2 separate regions of the Homo sapiens genome follow, and region 2 is linked to region 1. A link means that fine-mapping ties the variant in region 1 to the expression of a gene that starts in the linked region. Tissue or cell type: skin. Region 1 holds a variant in brackets; the other region holds the start of a gene. All regions are shown on one strand. Distances are between the middles of the regions.

Evidence for each region. PIP is the estimated chance that this variant, and not a neighbour inherited with it, causes the effect.
Region 2: it holds the start of APBB3, and the variant in region 1 is fine-mapped to the expression of APBB3 in skin (TwinsUK, PIP 0.95).

What each region holds. Positions count from the first base shown.
Region 1 is chr5:141,390,633-141,398,733 of GRCh38, reverse strand. The region is part of intron 1 of PCDHGA1 (protocadherin gamma subfamily A, 1); the gene reads right to left. The region is part of intron 1 of PCDHGA2 (protocadherin gamma subfamily A, 2); the gene reads right to left. All of the region lies in intron 1 of PCDHGA3 (protocadherin gamma subfamily A, 3), which reads right to left. All of the region lies in intron 1 of PCDHGB1 (protocadherin gamma subfamily B, 1), which reads right to left. It also overlaps PCDHGA4, PCDHGB2, PCDHGA5, PCDHGB3, PCDHGA6 and PCDHGA7, and 4 more genes. The variant G/A (reference allele first, on the strand shown) is at 4,563.
Region 2 is chr5:140,561,170-140,569,264 of GRCh38, reverse strand. It overlaps APBB3 (amyloid beta precursor protein binding family B member 3), which reads left to right and starts at 4,667. Exons shown (of 13, transcript NM_133173.3): 1 at 4,667-5,068; 2 at 5,350-5,513; 3 at 5,595-5,671; 4 at 6,542-6,602; 5 at 6,766-6,912; 6 at 7,038-7,165; 7 at 7,416-7,421; 8 at 7,564-7,678; 9 at 7,816-7,900. The coding sequence starts at 5,020. It overlaps SLC35A4 (solute carrier family 35 member A4), which reads right to left and starts at 4,437. Exons shown (of 3, transcript NM_080670.4): 1 at 4,407-4,437; 2 at 3,294-3,392; 3 at 165-2,700. The coding sequence starts at 2,095. The coding sequence ends at 1,121. LOC131768270 (SLC35A4 upstream open reading frame protein) reads right to left here and starts at 4,437. Exons shown (of 3, transcript NM_001394034.2): 1 at 4,407-4,437; 2 at 3,294-3,392; 3 at 165-2,700. The coding sequence starts at 4,421. The coding sequence ends at 2,503. It overlaps MIR6831 (microRNA 6831), which reads left to right and starts at 5,514; the gene lies at 5,514-5,594. RefSeq lists enhancers at 4,360-4,479, 4,235-4,841, 5,450-5,509 and a silencer at 4,800-4,979.

The DNA.
Region 1 (8,101 bases):
CCGGTCTAAGGTTTTCTCCAGTGCCAGTTCCGGGTATTTACTACCATCCTGTTTCTCCTTAATTATTAATGAGAAACTTGGGTTAAGAGAGAGTTTATACTTCTGCAGAGAGTTTAAGCCAATATCTGCATCTTCTGCTACTTCTAGTATAAATCTTGTGCCAGGCTGTGCAGACTCACTTATTTGCAGCTCAAAGGAATTTTGCGTGAATTTTGGCGTGTGGTCATTAATGTCCTCGATCTCCACATTCACGTGATAAAAGTTCAGTGGATTTTCAGCAACAGCCTCAAATTCCAGAGCACAAGCTGGCTTCTTCCCGCATATCTCCTCCCTGTCTAGCCTGCTGCTCACAAGCAACTCCCCGCTCTCTGCGCTCACGGTGAAGTAAGGCTTCTCCGAACTGACGCGCAGTTTTCGAGTCGGTAACTCCTGGACGCTGAACCCCAGGTCCGTGGCGAGGTTCCCCACTACGGAGCCCTTGGGCATTTCCTCGGGAATCCTGTAGCGGATCTGCTCACAGAGCGCCGGGCAGAACAAAGACAGCAGGAAGAGAAAGAGCACTGGCAGCCTCTCAGCCCGGCCCAGCTCCCCGGCGCCGCTCCCCATCCCTCTTGCTCTCCTCAGCTTGCTCACCAGCCTGGAGACGCCAGGTTACAAATAACCTCTGTATTGTAGATTTTTGGATCTCCGAACGGGCTTTAGTTCCAGTTCCAGTTTAGGAAACGATTCTTTTTCCGAGGAGGAAGCGGTGTAAAGGCCGGCGCTGGGGAGTCTGAGCTGGGGCTGCCCTGGAAAGCGCGCTGCGGCTGCGCGAGGAGATCTGGAGCGCCAAGCTCTGCACTTTGGCCAACAGCGGCGCCCAGAGTCAGCACTAGGAAACTACAGCCTCTGCGGCTTCAAGTTAACCAGTGCAGTAATTGTTTTTGTGTGCCTAACTTAACAAGCCAAGTTTTTACGTCCATATACTTAATAAAAAATTATAACAACTTCTTTAAGGTATCTTTCTCTGTTTTCCAAATTGTTAGAAATATCACGTTGGGTTTTTATACAAACCTGCATACATTGGTCCATTCTTTCACCATTCTGCAAACATACCTTGAACTCTTAGCTAGAACTAAGTATTGCCCTTGTCACTGGCAATATAATAATTAATATGATACAGTTCTTGCTCTCAGAGCCTTCATACTATACTGATTTCAAAAATTCATTTTTTATTAGCTATGGAAACAATTTTATCATTCTTCTGTTCATTTCTATGATTTCCAACTCCCCAATATTTCTAGTGTTTTATATTACACATATTAGGGAAATCTATACTATTTAAAACTATTTTGTAAAGTTGTGGCAATTTTATACCAATCCCCAAACATCTCCTCTTCCTGACTATATTAACATTCTTTATAAAAATAATTTTTCTTTACTCTTCTACTTCAGGAAATATTCATTCAAGTATACTGCCCATATGATGTAGCTAAGAAATGATATACCCTACTACGTTGCTCTTCTTCATATCTCAAAATACTTCTCTTATGTCATATCTTTTACAGTACATAAATTCATTCTTAAGAGTTATTGGGGAAATGCTTATCTATTCTGCAATACAAGGTACAAAGGGATATTCTAGTGGATTGCATTATTATCCTATCTGAAATGACTTTGGAATTGGATAAATGAAGCTCATAAGTTCATTTACATAAATTTGTGGACATTGGTCAACCTTCTTTAGTCCATTTGTCAGATTAATAAAAACAACTAGCCAACATTTTTAGGGAGAGTAAGGATTTTCTTTCCTACCAGGGCAACTTTCATCCGAGTTTTTAAAATTGCAAAGTGCCAATAATATGTTGTCCTCTCAAATGTGCATCCAAATGGTACACAAACTATGAAGTTAACTCCCACTCCACTGAATATGCACCATACAGTAGAACACTACACAATCCTTAGGAAATGTCCTTTTCATTAATAACAAACATTTATTGGGTCATCTACTTCTACCTTACAACAATCAATTCAGGTATTAGCTTTATTCAAATGCTACAAGAAGGTATGCAGGAATACAATAATGGATAGCCTATACCGAGTTTTTACTATTAATATTAGTTTTTTTTTTTTTTGAGACGGAGTCTCACCCTGTTGCCCAGGCTGGAGTGCAGTGACAGGATCGAGGCTCACTGCAACCTCCACCTCCCGGGTTCAAGTGATTCTTCTGCCTCAGCCTCCCGAGTAGCTGGGACCACAGGCGCATGCCACCATGCCTGGCTAATTTTTGTAGTTTTTAGTAGAGACGGGGTTTCACCATGTTTGCCAGGCTGATCTTGAACTCCTGACCTCAGGTGATCCACCCACCTCAGTCTCCCAAAGTGCTGGGATTACAGGCGTGAGCCACCGCACCCGGCCTAATAATAGTTTTTTTAGAGACAGGGTCTAGTTCTGCCACCTAGGCTGGAGTGCAGTGGCATGATCATAGCTCACTGCAGTTTCAAACCCCCGGGGCTCAAGCGGTCCTCCTGCCCCAGCCTCCCAAAGTGCTGGGATTTCAGACATGAGGCACTGTGTCCAGCCAAGACTGAATAACTTTAATTGAATTGATCAGCTTATTTAGAACTTGTGTACCTGAAACATTGGTTCTTAATATCAACATTCTCACCACTTCACATCAATGCACAACCGAAACAGCTAATTGGAATTGTATTGAAATATGTTCTTACATATTTTACAAAAGTCACTTTCAACAGTTTAAAATTACATTTTAATTCAGATCTAATGTTTTTGCTTTTGTTTTTTGTTTGGGGGAGCAATGGACATTCTAGGCTTTAGATTTCATGTCTCCATGGGCATGGAGCCCAGGTGACCACTGACTCACATACTTAATATTTAGTAACCAGTCTCATCTCCCACCAAGATCCATCTTTAAAGTTTGTTCATGTTTTGAAGGATGGTAAGAAGTATTAAAGTTTTGAAGGGCACTGGTACAGAAACAGGGCTCAGAAAAGAGGTTTAAAGTGAAGAAATCTACAAGAGCCTAGTTACAGGTTCAAATGCTAAACATAACCCTAAAAATTCTGAGATATATTTTACTTTTGCTAAGCTAATAACAAGGCTTTAGACTTCTTGATAATTTTCTGAAGTTCTAGTTTGGGATACACACACACACACACACACACACACACACACACACACACACACACACAAACAATAGCAAAATTACCAGTATGGACGGGTAGCTACTTCTTAAGTGAATGAGTGATAATAGGAATAAAATACTGGAAGGCTTAAAATGGTTGAACAATCTTTTCCAAGTCGTTTAAAAGCAAATGAAACAATAACCTATGACTATTAGAGTTCAATTTTATAGTAACACCACCAAAATAAACCCAAAACTCTGTGATACACCTTAAAAATTATTTTCAACTATCTTCACAATGTTTTTCAAAACATAATTTATGCCAAATAAAATTCATCTGGAAATTAAAAGCAAGCAAAGAACTAAACTCACCTGACCATGATCAGCTTCATTCTTATATTCATGAAAATCTACGGATGTTAACAAAGAATCATTTTTCTCACAGCCCTCCTGACTGATGAGCATGTCTGCGTAGTTGGGCTGGGGAAAGATCAGGTGACTCTTCCGCGAGTCGGCGGTGAGGGAGACTTCCTGGGAATAGGTCTGCAGGAAAGCCTGTACCTCCTCAACACCCACAAAATGTGAGGCAGGCACGCCTACCAATCTGCCACCGGAATCCTGGAGCAGGCGTGACTTGTGCCAGCGCCTCAGCCTGAGCCCCAGAAGCACAGCGACAAAGGCGAGGAAGACACAGGAGATGGCAGCCACTGCCACCACGAGATAGAGTGTAAGGCTCGAATCGTTCGGGTCGACCGAAGGCTTCAGACTGCCCAACTCGGTCAGGACTTCGGGGATGCTGTCAGCCACGGCTACGGTGAGCGTGACAGTGGCGGAGAGAGGGGGCTGGCCATGGTCCTGGACGGCCACCACGAGGCTCTGCTTGAGCGCATCTCTGTCCAGCAGGGCTCGCGCCGTGCGCACCTCGCCCGTGTGCAGACCCACCGAGAAGAGTCCCGGCTCGCTGGCCTTGAGCAGGCGGTAGGACAGCCAGGCGTTCTGGCCCGAGTCTCTGTCCACCGCCACCACCTTGGTCACCAGGTAGCCACGCTCTGCGGAGCGGGGCGCCAGCTCCACGCCAGTGGAACCGTCTGTGGGGAGGGCGGGGTACAGGATCTCGGGCGCGTTGTCATTCTGGTCCAGCACGAACAGGCTCAGTGACATGTTGCTGCTGAGGGGCGGGTCCCCGCTGTCGCTGGCTGTTACCAGTAGCTGCAGGTCTCGGATCTGCTCATAGTCGAAAGATTGCAGCGCATACAGGACACCGGTGTCAGAGTTGATGGAGATATACGAGGACAGGGGCGCCCCCTGCAGCGTGTCCTCGGTCACAGAGTAAGTGACCTGGGCATTCTCCTGGCTGTCGGGGTCGTGTGCAGTCAAGGAAAAGATGGAGGCTCCTCTCAGGTTGTTCTCTAGGATATACGCTGAGTAGGAGGCATGA[G/A]GGAAAGTAGGAGGGTTGTCGTTAATGTCTGCCACGTGCAGAGCGATTTGAGTTTCAGTGGACAGAGGTGGTGTTCCTAGATCTGAGGCCATCACTGTGATATTGTAGATAGAGACATTTTCTCGGTCCAAATATTTCCTTGTCACTAATCTATAATAATTACCTATTGACTTTTCTAATTTAAAAGGTAAATTATCACGTGTGTAACAGACAACTTGACCATTCTTTCCAGAGTCTTGGTCATGCACACTCAAGAAGGCAATTACTGTCCCGGGAAGAGAATTTTCTAACACTGGGCTAAACAAAGACGTAATGATCACTTCTGGTCTATTGTCATTTACATCTTCCACCGAAATGAGCAATTTGGTCCTCCCCAGAAGTGCCCCCACATCTTCGGCTTGTATTTCCATTTCATAAAATGAACATTCTTCATAATCTAGACTTTTTGCTATTGATATTTCCCCAGTATTTTCATTAAGCTGGAATAACGGAGTTTGTTTTTCATTAATTTTCCGGAATTTGTATGCCACTTTTCCGTTGATTCCCTCATCCGGGTCGCTGGCTGTTACAGTAAGCAGCCGCGTGCCTGGGGGCATGTTCTCAAGGACTTTCACTCGGTAAATCGGGTGAGGAAAAACCGGGGCATTGTCATTTGTATCCAACACTGTCACGTGGATGCGCACTGTGCTAGAGCGAGGCGGCTTGCCGCCATCCGAGGCCGTGAGGACCAGGTGGTGAGCAGCCTCTTCCTCCCTGTCCAGGGCGCGCTCCAGCACCAGCTCTGGGTTTATGGCTCCATTGTCTCCAGTCTGCACGTCCAGGGAGAAGTGGTGATTGGGGCTGAGCTGGTAGCTCTGGAGGGAGTTCACGCCCACATCCGGGTCAACAGCTTCTGGGAGTGGATAACGTGCTCCAGGAACCGCGATTTCGTTAATTTTTACTTCTAGATCTTCGACCTGGAATTTTGGGTTATTATCGTTAATATCAATTATTTCTATTTCTACCCCAAAGAGTTTTCCTTTATCCTCAACCAGGGTGTTAATATTTATCAGACACCGCGGGCTCTGAGCGCAGAGCTCCTCCCGATCTATCCTGCCCGCGGTGATCAAGCTGCCGCTGCGCGGGTTCAGAGCAAAGAGCTGCGTCCTACCTCTGGAGACGATACGGACTCCGTGCTTCGCCAGCTTCCGGGGGTCCAGCCCCAGGTCCTTGGAGATATTACCCACGAAGGAGCCTTTGTCCGTCTCTTCTGGCACAGAGTAGCGAATCTGTCCCCTCCCGATTTCCCACAGCGTTCCCAGCAGCGCGCACAGCAGGATCAGCTCGCCGCGTCTGGGGCGACTCTGTGGAGCGGCCATTGTTGTTTTGCTGCAGAATCCTCTCAGAATCTTCACTGTGCATAAATGGGTCTTATTTAGTTTCTTGCCGCAGCTATGGAGATGACAATCCTCCGGAAACCTGGAGTGCCTCCAAACAGGGGTCGGGTTTCGCTGCAGTCCAGCAGTTAGTTTGTGGCATCTGCGGGTCTTCGTGAGGTGTGAGATCTGAGTGTTTTCGGTTGCATTTGTCTTCCAGTAGGTGAACAGCGGCGCTTACAGTCCTAAATAGTTACTGCACTGAGATACAGATTACTTCTAAATGTAATACTCTACTAGATTACTGAGAAAAAAAAATCATTTGCTTATTACTTTGTTTTGAATTTATTTGATTTATCCGTAAACCCATATTTTAAAAGAAACAGCCAAAGAATGTGAGATGAAGGTTTTATTTAGTGTTATTAAATGATCAGATTAGATCAGAATGATCAGATTGTAGCATCGGATTAAATTACTCACATTTCTGCAATACATTTGGTCTTAAAAAAAACATGATACTTTCATTTCCCATTGTGCTCTAAGCTTTATTGTAAATGTCTCCAATATATACTAACAAATAACTAAGAACTTCAGTTGTCACCAGAAATGAATTTATCTTGAGACTAAAATAGACCTACTGGAGATGACTGACTCAGAAATTGTTTTATTTGGTTTAAACTACTTAATCATTTTACAAGCTTTCTATAGAGTTGTTGCTTTTAAATTATTCTTCTAAATGCCACTTGAATTACATGTCGATAATATTTTCAAATAAAAATTGTGGAATTTCAATAGGATAAATGCTTTTACCATTGCAGTTTTATGAGATATTACATTGTTTTGCTATTTTATTTACATTGTTTATATTTTTCTATTTGAATACTTGAAAGGTACAGATGAATATATGATAAAAAGCAAAGCTCCATCCCATCCCTTTCACCAAAGAGATGATTAAATTTAAAGCAGACTTGACTTTTACATATATTCTAAAATTAACTTTACCTACATTAACACTTTGATCTAAAAAACTGCAAAAAGTAATGACTATATAATACTTACTAAGAAGCCAAAGGATAAGTATGACTACAAAAAAGTCTGTTTCCCTTCAAGACCAGCCTGGGCAACGTAGCAGATGAACTTATTTCACCCTTCCTTTGAAGACTGGTATGATAGTTTTTTCACTGACTAAAACTTTCTTAAAACCACTCATGAAATCTGAAAACTTTATATTTTCCTGTGAATATATTTTCTTATGCATATGGAAAACTGGGTAGACAATGGAAACCATACCAGTTAAATTAGTGAAAGAAAATATTTTCTCTACTGAAAACAGAAAAATTAGCCAGGTCTGGTGGCATGAGCCTGAGTTCCAGCTAGTCAGGAGGCTGATGCAGAAGGAATGCTTGAGCCCAGGAGTTTGAGGCTGGAGGGAGCTATCATTGTGCCACTGCACTACAGCCTGAGTAACAGACAGAGACTCTGTCTCAAAAAAAAAAAAAGAAAAAAAAAAGAATCGAAAGACGTTTCCTTCTTTCAGCAATTTGTAAAGTGGCCATTAACTGAAGCAGTTGCTTAGATATACCTAGCAAAAGGCTCATATAATGTTCCTTGGTATTTTGTATATATTTTGTATGCACACCAGATTGGCAGTTTTCAAGACTATATTTCTTTCCTAGAGGTAGGAGAATGATTAGAAGACCTCTAGCTATATTAGTTTAGGGCTGCAGATAAGGCAGTTACACATTATATATTAGGGCTGTGTGTGAGAGGGACAACAGACACAAAACATTGTCTTTTCTTTGATGAAGGATATAGAATGAGCTTGAATACAGATTAATCCTGAAACTCCTATGTTACAAGTAAGGAGAATCTGCTTTTGATCTTCTAATGAGCATAGTAGACCTTTTTCTAAGTAAAAGGATCTCTCTCACACACACACACACACACACGCACACACAGCGTACACTGCATATAATCACAAGGGGTCCATGGACATAAAAATCCAGTTGACTCCTTATTCTAAGAGCTTTTGAAACAAAAGGGAAGTTAACACAGGAAACAAAACAGTGGACTACTATGGAGACCATACCAGTTAAATTAGTTAAGAAAAGTGTTGAATTTTAGCTTAAATTCTTTGGCTTTATTATTTTTATATTTATGGTATATCCAAGCTGAAAAAAGTAT
Region 2 (8,095 bases), 830 kb after region 1:
CTCAGTTCCATGGAACTCTCACAGGAAATAATGCCACTGGCAACAGCTTGGAGAAAACAATTTTTTCTTAGTCTAAAAGTTATCCCAGAATTAAGATACTCAGGACCCCAGAGGAACAAAATTGTTTGAGGGGAGTTGCGCAGACAGAAGACACAAGACAATCATGGCTGTGGTTGTAGGAACCACCCTACAGCCTAGAAGACTTTATTAAGATCTTATTGCTTATGCAGTTAAAGAGACACTGATTGAGCTACAGGTTTCCTGTACCTGGTCTCAGGTCACTCTGTGCAGAGCTTCCCCAGGCTGTTGGGAGCTGGGAGACTGCTAGGCAGGGGCAGGCCCCAGAGTGGGAAGCATGGTACCTCCTAGGAGCCTCAGAGTGGGTAGCGGGCTTCAAGACAGCCCTCAGGGTGAACAGAGAGGTCAGGAGTGTCGGCTTAAGCCAGGGCCCAGGGGCTACATTCCCTGAGATGAGTCAAGCCCAGCCCTCTCTGGGGTTTCCAGAACAAAGGCTAGGTGTGGGGAGCAGCACTGTGGAGAGGGCAGGGAGCATGTCTCTAGGCATTGCTGGAACTGGAGGAGACTGTCAGAGTGGTTTGGGTAATGGTTGTATAATCTGTGGCAACTGGGCCTTCTTGCATGAAAGTGGAAGGGTGAGGATCCCTTATGGAAGAGTCATGCACCATGGCTGGGCTGGACTAGCCAGCTCCAGTGGCTCTGCTGGGTGACTAAAGTAGGCAAGGAAAGCCACTTGTTGCCCACACCCCACTTTCATCAACTCTGTTCATGCAGGACAAAGCAGGGAGCTGCCCAACAAGGATGGGGTTATTTCTCAGGCCTAGGTATTGATGTTACCTTAATTCTTTAGTCTGGAAGAACTTGGTTGGGGGTGGGGGATGGTAAGCATTTCCTTAACCAAACCCACACTTCACATCTCCTAGGGGTACCCCTTCATCCACCAACCTCCAGAGAATAACCTGGCTGCCCTCACTTCTCCAGCTTTTCTCACAAGGCACTTGTTACAGGGCTGCTGATGGGAGAGGGAGGAAGGCCTGGGAGGGGGATCTGGTGGTGGCGCCCAATCTACAGGGTCCGGAATCAGGGTGGAAGTTGTCAGGGACTAGCGGCTGCCATAGTACAGGCGCATGGCCAGGCCAATGAGCAATGTGGCCAGGAAGAAGGCGGCTGTGAGCTGCAGCCGTAGCAGGACTGCTGAGAGCACGGCGTTGACCACCAGCGAGCAGGACACCACAAAGAGGCGTGTGATGCTGCTGCCATGCTTCATGACAGCAGACATGAGCAGTCCATTTAGTGCCTGGCTCAGCACCACGAGTGCTGCCCATCCTGAGAAACCTTCCAGGAGGCCTGGGCCAGAGCCGCCGCCAGCATGCAGACCTAGATTCAGAAGCACACCAAAAGTGTAGAGGAAGAGGTTCTGAAGTGCCAGGGGCAGCCGCTGTCGCTTCATGAGCAGCTCTGTGTACACTGACGACAAGCCTGAGATGAGGCAGTACAGAATGAGGAGCAGCAGGCCTAGCGGAGTGATATGCAGGGGCATGGGGCTGGCAGCAGCTGCTGGAGGGGGACTGGGAAGGGTGTTCCCGGGAACTTGAAGGCCCCCTGCTGCATAGCAGGCTCCCGCAGCCATCAGCAGCAGCAGCGCTAACCCCTGACGCACAGAGAGGCGGTGCCGGAGGCAGAGGCAGTAGAGCACAGCTGTGCTTCCAATCTTGAGATTACTCAGCACCTGGTAGGTGCTGGGGTCCATGTAACGCTGAAGATAGATCACCAGGTTGTTGTTAGCGCCATAGAGCAGGGCTGATAGTGCGAAGGGAGCAGCCTGGCGCCAGGGTGGGGGCCCCTGGGGCCATGCTTGCCAGCCTACCAGAAGGGAGAAGGCGCATAACAGTAGCTTGGTCAGCTCAGTCAGCAGCACGGCTGAGGAGGGCCGGAAGGGCACTCGGCCGTCCACATGGCACAGTGCCAGCAATGGGGCATGGGCACCGTACATGGCAGTGGATAGGAGTAGCATCAGGGTCCAGCGGGCCTGCCTGGGACGGCCCAGGCCTGGCATACCCCCATCCTCTACACTCATACCCACACAAGACCCTGGGTGGCTAAGGGGCAGCAGGGATTGCAACACGTTTGGGGAAAATCAAGTTATGGAGCCAGCTCCCAGGAAGGAGAAGCCGTGGAACATTGCCAGAGAGAATACTGAGGATCAGAGGCATCTACCAACTCCACAGTCAGGGCTTGAAGAGTAAGGGGCTGGTGGTCCTTGAAGCCACAGTCTTGGGGCGAGTCCCATGGAGCTAGGAAGGGGAAGAAGGAATCCAGGGTGCAGGCTGAGGAACTACTGTCCACAATCTGCAGGAAGGGAGGCAAGGATGAAGGTGGCAGGAAAGTTGGAGATAGCAAATGGATGACAGCTGGGGAATCCAGATAAAGTGTCTCCACCTGAAGGCTGAGCTGCTCATCCTGCCTCTTCCATGGCACCTAGAGCTAGTCGGGCCCCTTGCGTAGCAACTGCAAATAGTCCCTTAATGTCTTCTCCACGTTGGGCACAGCATATGCCTGAGCCGCATAGATGCCAGTGCAGGTGCCCACAGCAAAGCCCAATACTGCTGATGCCCTCAGTTTGGCCACCACATAGCCAGCCAGGAATCCCTTGAGGAACGGGGAGGACAACAGCGAGCCATCCTGCAGAGAAAAATGCAGAAGGAAACTTAGCTAGGCTCCTTCCTGACTGTCCAGGGGCTACTCAAGCTGGGATTAGAGCATTCCACCACCAGCTCCTCCTCACCCTGGACAACCGTGGTATTTTCTCCAGATTTTTCCCAAGGTTCTGGGGCCAGAAAAAGAACCAAGCAGTTCTGATCACACAATCTCAGAACCCTGGGGTCAGAAAGCTCCAACCATAGAACTCCACCGCCACACAAGGTCAGAGATGCCCCTAGCCCTGCCGGTTTCTCCAGCCTCATTTCCTAGCATGCTCCCCAACTACTGTAGCCAAATGGACCTCCTTTCACCCCTCATGTTTATAATGCTACTTCCTACCACAAGGCCTTTACATATGCTGTTCTGCCTGGAATGTTCTTTCCTCCCCTCTTCACCTACTTAACCACTACTTAAGATATTAGTTCATGTGCCATTCAGAAAAATTGTCCTTAGGGTGACTGAGAATAGGCCCTCAATAATCACTTGCTGAAGAAATCTCTACCATCCATTTAACACTCTCAAGAGCATGTTGGGCAATAAAGCCTAAGGCAGGGGTGGGGTGGGACAGTCCTTACCTGGCCCACTCCACTGTTGACTTCGTCTTCTACACGCCGCTGCAGGCTTTCCAGCTGGTTCTTGAGAAATGCCAGGTCCTTAAGCTTAGGCAGAGAATCCTAGGACAAGCGAGAGGCTGGCTCCAGCAGTCTGACTAAGCCCCACCCCTTGCTCAATTCCATCAGAAGCTGGGAATTGGGAGGGGATGGGGTGAGCCAGAAAGACCTTTTCCTATAAAAGCTTCCTGAGATGGCAGTGGCAAAGAAAGACAAGCATTGAAAAGCACAGAATTCAAATGAGGGCCAGGAAGGGACTGACAGATGGGATCTGAACCAGTAACTTACATCAACCTTGACAAGAATTTTATATAGCAAGCAGTATGTAGGAAAGGCAGGAGGGACAGCTAGGGACCTTTAATTAGGTCCATCAGGAAACCACTACTGACTCCATTATGAGCTCCTTGAAAGTCGTGACCAGTCTGTCTTGGCTACTATGTTCTAGTGCCTGACATTTAGTAAATGTGTGGGTAATGCTGAGCTTCTAGACCAATGGTGAGTAATGGACCGAGGCAGTTTCCTGGACAATTTTATTGTCTTGGTTCCTGGATGGGCTTTACCTCTTTCTTCCCAAGGACATCCCAAACTGAATGTGAGTGACTGGATGTGACTGAGAATGACAAAAAAGACTGTCGGCAAGTGTGTAAGTAAATGGACTGAGTGATTTTGATCGCATATAAGTATGAAATTCAGAATGTATGCAAAGGAGTGTTTGAATGAGGGTGGTGTGAGTGTCCGTGTGATTGGAAACATCGTGTCACTGGGAAGAAAATTTCGGGAGCTAGGGAATGGGGTAAAGTGAGGAGTGTTTAAGGGTGAATGTTTTTGAGTCTGTGCTAGTAACGGGTTCGTGATGGTTCCCAGGAGGGGACATCTGGGGGATCCACGGCTCCTCCCGCCTCGCCGAATGCTCTCCCCACACCACTCCACACTGTTGAGGCAGTTGACAGGAGCCGCAGAAGAAACAAGGGACATCCTCACTCCTGAGCCGCTCCAGAGTCGCTTCTCCCCGGAACTAAAAAGGTCAAGGAGAGTGAAGACCACGCCCGGCTGCAGATCACCCCCACGGCCACTCACCTTGTCATCCGCCATCTTCCCCGCCGAACTTGTTGCGCAGGCGCATCCCCGCCTCCCTCGTGCCGACTGCCCCGGCCATCTTTACGGAGGGCGAAGGCACTTCCGGAGCATTTTTGGAAAGGGGGAGGTGCTTTCCTAGTGGCCAAGTACGCCTCTCTCAGATACTTCCACGTGACCCCCTCCCGTCGAGTCTCAGGCTGCGTGTGAGCGCACTCACGACCGGGGCGCGATGATCTCACTCGTGCGCGAGTGCGCGCGGCGCATGTTCGGCGTGTCGGTCTTCAGGCGCCTGATGAGTTCATAGTTGGGCGGTGGTGTCAGCGGTTTCGCTGGCGTTCGTGGGCCTCCCCCGGACCCACACACGGAAACACGCAACCATTCGGGGATCCAGACGCCCGTTTACACGCACCACCCCTGGGCGGGCTGTGCGGCTCAGGCCCTCCCCCGGGACCGGCCCGTGTCCCGCCCCGTGTCCCGCCCCGTATTTGTGCGGCGCCAGCTGGCCCCGCAGCCTGCGGCGCAGAGAGGCTGGGCTTGCAGGCGCAGTAGCTCCAGAGGTCGCGCTGGGCTGAGAGTGCGGGCCGGCAGAGGCTGGCGGGGAGCAGCCGGGGTTATGCTGGGCAAGGATTACATGCTGGCCATCATTCTGGTCAACTGCGATGGTGTGCACGGAGGGGCCCGGTGGGAAGACCAGGAGCTGAGGGAGGACGAGGGAATCCGAAAGGCTACTCTGGGGCTCAAAGACGGTGGGGGATACCTCTCTGTGTAGGGACCAGGGGGCGAATGAACCCGGTCTTTACATGTGATGTCTTCAAGATTGAGGAGCCTGGATCTTCAGCCTAAGAACTGACCCATTTTGGGGATGGAGAGGGGATTATGACAGCATGTTATTCTGAACTCACAAATCATATGCTCCCTCCTCTCTAATCCGGTGTTCCTGTAGATGACTTGTGGGGGGACCACAGTCTGGAGGTGGAGGCTGGCCTGCCTCCTGGCTGGAGGAAGATCCACGATGCTGCAGGTACTTACTACTGGCATGTACCCAGCGGTAGCACCCAGTGGCAGCGCCCAACCTGGGAACTAGGAGATGCAGAGGACCCAGGCACGGTAGGTAGAGTGTGAGGAGGAGGTCTGAGCCCATGTGTGGACCTAGGTCTGCTGTTAAACTGACTAACTCCCACTCTACAGGGAACGGAGGGGATCTGGGGACTGCGGCCCCCCAAAGGGAGATCCTTCTCCAGCCTGGAGAGTTCACTGGACCGGAGGTAACGGGTGGCCCAGGCAAAATGAAAGGCTTGGGGTTCCATGGTGTTCAAAAATGCAGCTGGACCCATGGTCTGCTTTCCAGCCCAGGTTCTGGATTCTGTCACATGTTTTGGGTTCTGTTACGTTCTTGGCTCTGTCCCAGGTTCTTAACTGTCAGTATTTTGAGTTTTATCCCTTGTTCTAAGCTCTTGTTTGTAGCTACATGTTTTTCATATTCTTGGTCCTAACCTATCATGTTCTAGACCTTGGCCATTAAGTCCTCTGTTCTAGGGTCTCTTGTCCCACTTTGGGGTTCTGGTCCACATATTGGACCCTGTTCTATTTTGTGACTTTTATTTTTTATTTTTTGAGATGGAGTCTCACTCTGTCATCCAGGCTGGAGTGCAGTGGCACGATCTTGGCTCACTGCAACCTCCGCCTCCCAGGTTCAAGTCATTCTCCTGCCTCAGCCTCCTGAGTAGCTGAAACTACAGGCACATGCCACCATGCCCAGCTAATGTTTGTATTTTTAGTAGATATGGGGTTTCACCATGTTGGCCAGGATGGTCTCGATATCCTGACCTCATGATCCACCCGTCTCAGCCTCCCAAAGTGTTGGGATTACAGGCGTGAGCCACCACTGCACCTAGCCTTGTGACTTTTATTCTATGTCCTGTGTCTGGGTCCTATGTCCTGAATTTTCCCTCAAATTCTGAGTCACACTTTATGTTACGTTAATATGTCCTGGGCTCTACCCTGCTCTGGTTTTATATTTCTGGTGCTATATTCTGGGTCTTGCCCCTCATCCTGTGCTTATCAAGTTGTCTAGGCCTCACCAGTGTCCCTACTGTAGGAAATGTGGTCCTCTTAACAGCTCTGCTCTGTTTCAGTAACTCTCTGTCCTGGTATGGTGGGGAATCCTACATCCAGAGCATGGAGCCAGGGGCTAAGGTAGTGACTTGGGCCTGAGGGCATTGGGAGGTCCCAAGGGAAAGACAAGGGTGGGATTGGACTGAACAGAGGTGATCAAGGGTGAAGACAGGGAGTATGTATTGTGGCACCTGCCACCCTACTCCATCCTTATTAATTCCTGTCCCTTCCCCCAACCTGTCAGTGCTTTGCAGTCCGCTCTCTGGGCTGGGTAGAGGTACCTGAAGAGGACCTGGCACCGGGGAAGAGCAGTATTGCAGTCAATAACTGTATCCAGCAGCTGGCCCAGACCCGCAGCCGGAGCCAGCCTCCAGATGGTGCCTGGGGTGAGGTGAGTTGGCTGGGCCCTTTAATGGTTTGGGCCCAGGGCCCAGCAGAGGTAGCTGTCCCTGAATTTCCTATTTCTCATGGCAATGACCTTTATCTGAGCTCTGGGCTGACCTCTGTCCTTGGCAGGGCCAGAACATGCTGATGATCCTGAAGAAGGATGCCATGAGCCTAGTGAATCCCCTGGACCACAGTCTGATCCACTGCCAGCCTCTGGTGCACATCCGTGTGTGGGGCGTGGGGAGCTCCAAGGGCCGGTGAGGATGCCTACATCCCCCAAGCAAGAGCTACTTCTCCCTCCCGGCTGCAGGCTGTGATCCCCACTGATGCTGATCCCCAGTACTTGAACCCCTGGACACAGATCCTCTGATGTGGACCCAGGACTGCTTCCCCTGCCTGGTCCAGCCCTGGTTGGGGAGGGTGGGCCCAGCTCAGCAGGGACAGTTTGGGGAGAGTCCGAGAGGCTGGGCTGATTCCCTTCTGTGCTCCCACATGCTTCCGGAACAGTGACAGGTGAGTGAAAACCAGGTATCCTGAGCCCCATCCCTGATGTCCCTACTCCATCCCTGCTATATCCCTAGCCTGACTTTCCAGCCTCCTGCAGGCTCCTGCCTCTAACCAGCTTCTACCCCAGCCCCATCTCTGCCCCTGCTAGGGACTTCGCTTTTGTGGCAAGTGACAAAGATAGCTGTATGCTCAAGTGCCATGTGTTTTGCTGTGATGTCCCTGCCAAGGCCATTGCCAGTGCCCTACATGGGCTTTGTGCCCAGGTAAGTGTCAGGGGTGGGGCAGGGAATGTGGGTAAGGGGTTGGGTCTGAAGCTTCCAAGGTAGTTGGGGTGGTATTGGCCCTTTTACCCTAATTCCCCTCTCTCCCTGTGGGTCATGCTGGCTTCATTGTGTTTTAGATCTTGTCAGAGCGAGTAGAGGTCAGTGGTGATGCCTCTTGCTGCTCCCCAGACCCCATCTCTCCTGAAGACCTGCCACGGCAAGGTATGGGGAGGGGAGACCTGCATTGCTGCATTGGGGTGCTTTGGTGCTGCTTTGTGGGGGGGCGATTTCTGGTTATTTAATACTTCTGTGGATAAATTTCTGAGATGTCTGGTCTCAGGGATCCCAAGCCACTAGTTGGAGGAGCATCTATGAGCCATTTCTTCTACCAGCACCAGCTCTGACCTGAGTCCTGGC